2 separate regions of the Homo sapiens genome follow, and region 2 is linked to region 1. Evidence: fine-mapped expression QTL. A gene starts in region 1. The other region holds a variant in brackets. All regions are shown on one strand. Distances are from middle to middle.

The links. PIP is the estimated chance that this variant, and not a neighbour inherited with it, causes the effect.
Region 2: its variant is fine-mapped to the expression of PCSK6 in whole blood (TOPMed, PIP above 0.99).

What each region holds. Positions count from the first base shown.
Region 1 is chr15:101,487,239-101,491,618 of GRCh38, forward strand. PCSK6 (proprotein convertase subtilisin/kexin type 6) reads right to left here and starts at 2,469. Exons shown (of 22, transcript NM_002570.5): 1 at 2,136-2,469. The coding sequence starts at 2,432. LOC124903566 reads right to left here and starts at 1,915. Exons shown (of 2, transcript XM_047433427.1): 1 at 1-1,915. It overlaps LOC107987228 (a long non-coding RNA gene), which reads left to right and starts at 2,529. Exons shown (of 2, transcript XR_001751730.2): 1 at 2,529-3,086; 2 at 3,150-4,380.
Region 2 is chr15:101,309,063-101,313,442 of GRCh38, forward strand. It overlaps PCSK6 (proprotein convertase subtilisin/kexin type 6), which reads right to left. Exons shown (of 22, transcript NM_002570.5): 20 at 4,314-4,380. LOC100507472 (a long non-coding RNA gene) reads right to left here and starts at 242. Exons shown (of 1, transcript NR_045387.1): 1 at 1-242. The variant G/T (reference allele first, on the strand shown) is at 2,421.

The sequences.
Region 1 (4,380 bases):
CAACCAGCTAATCTCTGTTAGTGAATGTCACCGCAGTGCCACTGCCAGCACCATGCCTGAGTGACCGGGCTGCGTGGCATTCATGCTGGCTGCACTAGACAGAGCTGGGGAGACCCCGATTAACTCCCCAGAATATCCTGGGTACGGAGTGTGCATCGGGGCGAATCTTCTCTCCCATCCGCAAAACCAGGAGAGCAGACTGCACTAAGAACTCAGTGAGCCTGACAGAGGTTGTCTCAAAGGGGCGGCATGGCCAAGGGTTAGGCATTTTTATTCCCACAGATAGAAATTTCCGGGGAGAGTTACCTGTGCCTCTCTGCCTCTCTCTTGCAGTGTGAGCTCACAGCTCAATTTCAGCTCCATTCTGCTCATTTAATTTTAGAATCCCAAAACCCAGGCACTTTGTAATTTATCGCGTAGTTTAAGAGTCACTTTTAGCTGAAGACAAATTGCTGGGCCACCTGGGCACAGCAGCGAAGTGTGGCAGGAGCCAGGGGCACTACGCAAACATGAGGAACACCTTCTTCAGCCTGGACAATCAGCCAGGGAGAGTCAAGAACTACAGAGACAAACGAAGTCAGTGCTACCCGACGGCAAAATCTGAAATCACAGGATGTTTGGAGGGCCTTGAGTGGTTAAAAAAACTAAATATCTATATGGATATACATGTGCGTATATGTATGTGTGTATATGTGTATATATGTAACATTTTATATATATATATGCATATATTTAAAAGGTCTCCAAAGATGTGCTAGCATTCTTTCAGTAAACTCGAACCTGCCTTGTGAAGATTCCTTCATTCGAATGGTGGAATCCACCCCTCCAGCCACACACCTAATAGTACATCAACGTGGGGCTTGGGATGCAGAACTAATGTCATTTCTATCAATCAGGGACGCCACCACACCTTGCTGGCTTCTGCCACGGATAACGATGAAACTACATTTAACACTGCCTGGCACTAAGGTTTAGAGTTATGAGTCGGTGCTTCCCTGTCACTTCACTTAACCCTCTGAGTGTGTAGTTTGTAGATTTGTTAACTGCACTGAGAGGTCCCCTGGTGTGACCTCAAAATAACGGCCTCTCCAGGAGCCATAAACATGGATCAACCCCAACTCACCGCCCCTCAGCCCGGTAGCTGGTTGAGAGAGGAAAAAGGGACCCGCCGGGAGGTCCTTTGAGGGTAATGCCGCCTTTGTGCCCAGGGCGTGGCCTGCTTGCTCACTGACAGAAGAGGGGACAGCCGAGGGCTGCGGGGCTGGGAGGGCCCCGTGGGGGCCGGTGAGGGTCAGGCCCCGGTCCAGGCTCTGTGGCAACGCAGCATTAGATCTTTCCGACAACCCAGCGGTGTAGACATTGCCACTGACTGCAAAGGAGCTTGTCAGGGGAGCGACTTGCCAAAGGTCACACCGCTCGGCCATCAGAACCGCGGCAGAAGCCCCCACACAAAGCGCCCTCCCTCCGCTCCTGGAGAGGTTTTAAACCCAGGACCCCCGGCCCTGCGCTGTCCCAAGGCCTCTCCGACGGCGGCCGGGCTCCAGGGTGCAGGCTCCCGGCCATCTACCCCCGGGAGCCGCGGACACCGAGGGAGCGCGAGTCCCCGAGACGCCGGGCCACGCTCATGTCACCCAAGCAGCGGCCGCGGCCGCCTTGGCGCGCGCACCGGGTCCGGAGCTCGCGCCGCCCGTCGAGGGCAGAGGGGCCGCTCCCCCGCGGGGGAGAGCCGGGTGGGCGCCCAGGACCCAGCGGCGGACGGCGCGCGACGCCTGAGGCAGCCCAGACTCCCCCGGAGCCCGGCAGGTGTCCGCGCCGCCCCGGCTTCTGAGGCCACACTTCCGAGCGCGGGGTTGGGCGGCACTGCCGGGGGACTTGCGGTCGGCGCGCCGGACCTGCGTGGGCGCCCACGCGGGACCCCAGTCCCCCCCACCCCGCCGAGTGTCCCGCGCGCGCCCCCCCGGGCGACACCCCCCCCCGCAGGGCGCCCCGGCCGCCCGCCGTCCCCAAGCGGTCCCGGAGCCTTCCCACGCGCGCGCGGGGCCGGGGCCGGGCGGACAGGACTGCGGAGGCGCCCCCCTCGCGCGCGCCGGAGGCCGCCGGGAAAGTTTTGGGCGCGCGGGGCCGGCCGCACTCACCTGGCCCAAGTTGAGGTACCCGTGCGCCGCCGCCACGCGGTCCGCCTCGGCCGGGCCGCCCAGCACTTGCACCGCCCAGTGGTTGGTGTAGACGGGGCGCGGCGGGGGCGCGGAGCAGGCGGCAGGCAGCGCCAGCAGCAGCAGCCAGCGCCAGGGACGCGGCGCGAGCGGCCGGAACCCGGGCCCGCCGGCGCCCCCCGCGCCCCCCGCGCCCCCCGCGCCCGCGGCGGTGTCGGTGGCGGCGGCGGCCCGGGGCGGCGGCCGGGGCCCGGGCGCAGGCGGCGCGCGCGGAGGCATAGCGGCGACAGGCTCGCGCGGCGCCCGAGCTGCGAGTGCGCCGGGGGGTGGAGTGCCGCCTTTTAAAGCCGCTCCGCGCCGGGGAAGCGCCGCCGCCGCCGCCACCGCCGCCGCCAACACCGCCGCGGGCGGGAGCCGGGGAGGAGGAGGCGGCCGCGGCGCGTTCCCGCCCCCGGGCCCGCGCTCCTGCGACCGGGCTCCGGGGCCGAGAGCCGTCCGGGAGGCCCGAAACGCCCCCCACCGGGGGAACTTCCCCGCCGACTTCTGGGGCTCTCGGGACGCGGTGCCGCCCCAGAGGCGTCCTCGGCCCGCGAGTTCTGCTGGGAGCGGGGAGGCCCCGGCGTCTCAGGTGAGTCCCCGGTTCCCTAGACCGGCCGGACACCCGAAGGCCGCACTCACCTGGCGGGGGCCTCAGACGCCTGGCGGCCTCGCCCGCCTCCCTAGACGGAGGGCTCGCCCGTGTGCGGGGTCCCAGGGAGAAGAAGCTGCGGGGAAGACAGTGGGTCGCCCGGGACCAAGCCTGGCTGAAGGGACACATTGAGCGGGGCAAAGGCATGTGGCGCATCAGCCGGGCTCACGAGCGTGTACCCGAGAAACCACCGCACGGAGCCCATGGCGGAGGCCGCGGCCCATGCTGGGAGGCAGGCCGTGCAGGTGAACCCCCAGGCCGCGCAGGTGAACCCCCAGGCCGCGCAGGTGAACCCCCAGGCCGTGCAGGTGAACCCCCAGGCCGCGCAGGTGAACCCCCAGGCCGTGCAGGTGAACCCCCAGGCCGTCCGCTTAGCCTCGCTGCGATCTTGGGCAAATGACTGTGGTGGCTGAGGGCAGGCGCCCCACCTGCAAAATGCGGGGAACAGTGGCATCTACCCCGTCGGGCTGATTTGAGGATGAGGTCAGCTTTTGCTGTACAATAAGCTGTCCGTAAACGTTCGTTTTTATGAGCCCAGGGCCTGCCGTGTGGTAGGTGTTCACTAGACGATGTACACTCTTAAAAGCACCCACTGAGCTGGGACCAGCAGTAGAAAGTCAGCTGAATCATCCTCACCCCTGCTTCCTGGAGCAGCCTGGTATCCAGTGGATAATGATTTGAAGCACCCTGGAGATGGATGGAAATGTTCACACCATAATCAAGGAATTATGAAGGGTAAGGATCGCTGCTGGATCTCTTCTGTCATCCCTCCCAGGACCCATTGGTCCTACTGGCCCACTTCCAGAAAGCAAGCCATCAACCTGCTTAATATAGGAAGTAAAACAAAAAGGTCGAGAAGGCCTTGAGGTGGGAAGGAAGCTGCTTCTCTGATGGTCAGTTCCAGGAGCGGTCTCTTGTTGAGCGTGCAGGATTCACTTGGAGTCTGTGGCTTGGCAGCTGGAGGTGAGAGGCTGGGGCGAGAGGGGATGGGCTGAGGACAGGATCTGCATAGATGGTTTCCGAGGTCCTTTCCAGCCTCGCTCTCAGGAGCCCTTTGGTTTTGTAACCCACGTGATTCATCATTTCTTCAGGTGTGAGTCACCCCTAATGGAGGTGGGAGAACAGGAGGCGTGGTGGGAGGCCCCATCCCAACAGGCCACATCCATGTTCACAAGGGCTCCTGCCAAGGGCCCATCTTGGAACCTGGAGATCAACGTCCCACATGGCCTTCGCTTTGCTACACTAGATGTAACTTCACCTCCCTGCGTTCCCCTGGCAAGTGGGGTCAGCTGCTTGGGCCGTCACTCCAGGCCTGCCCACACTGCAGAAGACAGCCACCGTGTGTCCCTCCTACAGATGGACTGGATGCTCACCAGCCCCTGCCAGTGGAGAGACATGAGGCCCTCATGCAAACTGGCAGCCCTAGAGGAGAACCGGCCATACTTGTTGGACAGAAACAGTACCCAGAACTCTCAGTCTGCCTCTGCCTGACATGGCCCTGGCTGCCTAGCCAACTGGCTTGCAGAAGAGGGACATTGG
Region 2 (4,380 bases), 180 kb before region 1:
GGCCTCGGTTTTCCATTGCTCTAACCAGGTTGCCACACACTCAGCAGCTGAAAATAACACCCACTCAGCGGCTCCCCGCTATGCAGGCAGAAGTCCAGGCAGGTGCAGCTGGGCTCTCCACCTAGGGTCTCACGAGGTTCAGGGCAAGGTGGTGGCCAGGCTGGGCTCTCCTCTGGAGGTCTGGGGAAATAATCCATCACCATGCTGCTCAGGGAGATGGGTGATGCTCCCGTCCCCGTTAGGCCAGTGCAGACGGCTCTCCCTGGGAGACCCTGTGTAGCTCCTGCTTTCCGTCAGGATTACCGTGCCCAGCAGCGGGTCCTCGTGGGCAGCACCAGCTTTGGGCAGGGTGGCTTTTAAGATGCTTCTGGTTCTGCAACCATCTATGGTACCTACTTTTCCCCCAAACACCATGGCCGCTTTGCCCTGCCACATTCTGGAAGGACAGGGATGCCGGATGCAGCCCTCTGTCCCTGCTCCCTTGCAGAGGCCACTCCCATCAGCCTCCTGCCTGTTCAGGAGTGGGATGCAGAAGACTGACGCTTTCATGCTCCAGCCTGGACGCAGCATGCGCATTGGCAGAAGGCGTGCCCCTTCAAGCTGTGCCCCTGGGAGTCTCTGCCCCCGCTGAGCCTGGGGGCAAGTGGAGGCAGGGCCAGGGCATGAGGAGTTTGCCTCCCCCGCTGGCAAGCACTCCACAGAGGCCTGTTTTTCTTCCAAGTTGTCCAGGCTGGCTCTTGCTGGGTCCTCTCACTAGGTCTTGAGGGTGTCCGGCCCCTCTCTTAGGGAACTTATCGTGCATTGTTCTCAGCGTCGGGCCTCGGCCCCTCTCTTAGGGAACTTATCAGGCATTGTTCTCAGCGTCGGGCCTCGGCTTCCACCTGCAGTTGCCAACCCAGCAGGCCTGCGTCCTGACCTGCATGTTCCAACGCAGCCCGTCTGGCCACATGCTCCCTCGGAGCTGCCTGGCACAGCAGCAGCGGACGGCCACGGCGTCCACCAGCATTCTGGGGCCTGGAGGATGCCTGTGGTTCTCAGCTCAGGCTGTCCAAGTGGGGAGAGACCCCGCAGAACCAATCGGACCAAGGCCTTGCTTCCTTTGGGAGGCGTCCACACTGACGCTCTTCCTGGGGGGTGCTTCTCCAAGACCCGGTGTGTCAGCCCCAGCACTGTCAGCCTCTGCAGGGCCGAAAGCTGCCCCTCACCTGGGAACAAGTACCCAGGAAACTCCTGTCCTCCACTGCCCAAAGAGAGGTTTGCGGTGGGGCTGCCCGCCTGCTGCCTCCTGAGGGGCAAAGAGAGGTTTGCGGTGGGGCTGCCTGCAGGGGTCCAGTTGCACAGCTGTGGGCATGATCAGCATGCCCTGAAATCCAGGGCATTTGACAAATGAAAGTGATTATCACTGTTTAATTCCAAGTTCTCCCTGGATTGCTATATTTAATTATCTGAGAACCAGCTGACTGGTTACCATGAAGGGTTTAACTTCAGACAACTGTGCCCAGGGCCCCGTGCAGGACTCAGCAAGGCTGCACCTTGCAAGCGGGTGGCAAGTTTCCTCCATTACAGCAACGCAGTAGAAGGGGCTGATGCTTGCCGAGATACGTAACCGCCACCAGGTCCCTCTGCTGTGGGTCAGACAAGTGCAAGGGCTTGGTGGTCCCTCATGGGCTCACTGTAGGGCTTTGTTTCTAGGGGAATAGGTTACAACCCACAGTGGTTCTTACACACAGCCTGGGAGGCAGACCCCACTGTGTGGTGAATCGGTACCCAGCTGGCAGCCAGCCATGGGCACCCCTCCCCTGCTCTGACACAAGCCTTTGAGGGCTCCCTCATTTTCAGTCTTTTTCAGACGGAAGCCCCCCGATATGGTTTGAACATTTGTCCCCTCCAAGTGTCATGATGAGATGTGATCCCCAGTGTTGGAGGTGGGGCCTGGTGGGAGGTGTTTGGATCATGGGGTGGATCCCTCATAAATGGCCTCACACCATCCCCTTGGTGATGAGTGAGTTCATGTGAGAGCTGCTTGTTTAAAGGTGTGTGGCAACTCCTGACTTTTTTTTTTCTTTTGAGATGGAGTCTTGCTCTGTCGCTCATGCTGGAGTGCATGGTGCGATCATAGCTCACTGCAACCTCCGCCTCCTTGGTTCAAGCGATTCTCCTGCCTCAGCCTCCTGTAAGACTGGGATTACAGGCACACACTACCACGTCCAACTAATTTTTGCATTTTTTTTTTTTTTTTTTTTTAGTAGAGAAGGGGTTTTGCCATGTTGGCCAGGCTGGTCTTGAACTCCTGGCCTCAGGTGATCCGCCCACCTTGGCCTCCCAAAGTGCTGGGATTACAGGCGTGAGCCACCGTGCCCGGCCTCCTTCCCTCTCTTGCTCCTGCTATTGCCATGTGATGTGCTGCCCTTGCTTCACCT[G/T]CCATCAGGAGTGAAGACGCTGGGCAGATGCTGGCGCCATGTTTCCTATGAAGCCTACAGAACTGTGAGCCAATTCAACCTCTTTTCTTTATAAATCACCCAACCTCAGGTATTTCTTTTTAGCACTGTGAAAGCAGGCTAACGCCTGGTACTTCCCTCACAGCTCACCCCATCGTCACCCCTCACAGCCCACCCCATCGTCACCCCTCACAGCCCACCCCATCGTCACCCCTCACAGCCCACCCCATCGTCACCCCTCACAGCCCACCCCATCGTCACCCCTCACAGCCCACCCCATCGTCACCCCTCACAGCCCACCCCATCGTCACCCCTCACAGCCCACCCCATGGTCACCCCTCACAGCCCACCCCATCGTCACCCCTCACAGCCCACCCCATCGTCACCCCTCACAGCCCACCCCATCGTCACCCCTCACAGCCCACCCCATCGTCACACCCTCACAGCCCACCCCATCGTCACACCCTCACAGCCCACCCCATCGTCACCCCTCACAGCCCACCCCATCGTCACCCCTCACAGCCCACCCCATCGTCACCCCTCACAGCCCACCCCATCGTCACCCCTCACAGCCCACCCCATCGTCACACCCTCACAGCCCACCCCATCGTCACCCCTCACAGCCCACCCCATCGTCACCCCTCACAGCCCACCCCATCGTCACCCCTCACAGCTCACCCCATCGTCACACCCTCACAGGTCCCTTCAAACTCCTCAATGTTGCTCCCACCCTGAATAAGACAGGTTGCCCTGCCCTGTTCTGGGTCCTGAGTTCATGATCTCCCAACATAGGGCAATATTCAGCCAGAAAAGAGGAGACCAGAGCAAACAGCTCCTCCTTTAACAGCTCATGTCCAACAACAGAAGGGTCCAGGGCCATCAAATAAGAATGGTGACTCTGTGGAGGGACACATGGGAGGAAGCACAAGAGGAGGATATGGAGGGTGAAAATAGATGTGCGTGGACTGTGCAGAGAACAGCTTTAGAATGAGGAAATTGTCAGGATCTTTTTAATTTCTCTAAGTATCTAACTAAAAAAAATATTTTAGGCCAGGTGTGGTGGCTCACACCCGTAATCCCAGCACTTTGGGAGGCTGAGGTGGGTGGATCACTTGAGGCCAGGAGTTCGAGACCAGCCTGGCCAACGTGGTGAAACCCGGTCTCTATTAAAAATACAAACAATTAGTGGGGAGTGGTGGCGGGTGCCTGTAGTCCCAGCTACTCGGCAGGTTGAGGCAGGAGAATGGTGTGAATCTGGGAGGCGGAGCTTGCAATGAGCCGAGATCGCCCACTGCGCTCCAGCCTGGGCGACAGGCGAGACTCCATCTCAAAAAAAACGAAAACAAAAACAAAAATTAGCTGGGCATTGTGGTGCACGCCTGTAGTCCCAGCTACTCGGGAGGCTGAGGCATGAGAGTTGCTTGAATCCCAGAGGCAGAGGTTGCAGTGAGCTGAGGTCACACCAGTGCACTCCAGCCTGGGCGACAGAGTGAGAGTGTGTCTCCAAAAAAATTTTTTTTTAACCCAAAACATGGTTTCTCTGATTATCGACAGTGCAAAGGATGCATGCTGAGCGCGACATGGGCAGGGACGTCCCGCGTAGTCCACCAATGGGGTGTGAGCACCTTGCTATTCTGCTTCCCATCTTATCCCGCTGCTGCACGGTGTCTGCCCACAGCAGGGACCCAACAAATATGCATCCAGTGAACAAAGGGACGAAGGCCCCTCAGCAGCTCTGTAAATGGGCTCCTGTCCACAGTGGGGTGATGCAACATGCCCTCCCCGGCCCCTGGGGAAGATGCTGCCAGACTCTGCCCTCCAGGCACTCCTTTGCTGGACACAGCTGCCTGCCGTTCCCCGCCAGGAGGACCGTACCTTCGACACACTTTGTGGGGCAAGCCCGGCATCTCTTCTGGGTAGAAGCCCTCACCACAGGCTGGCA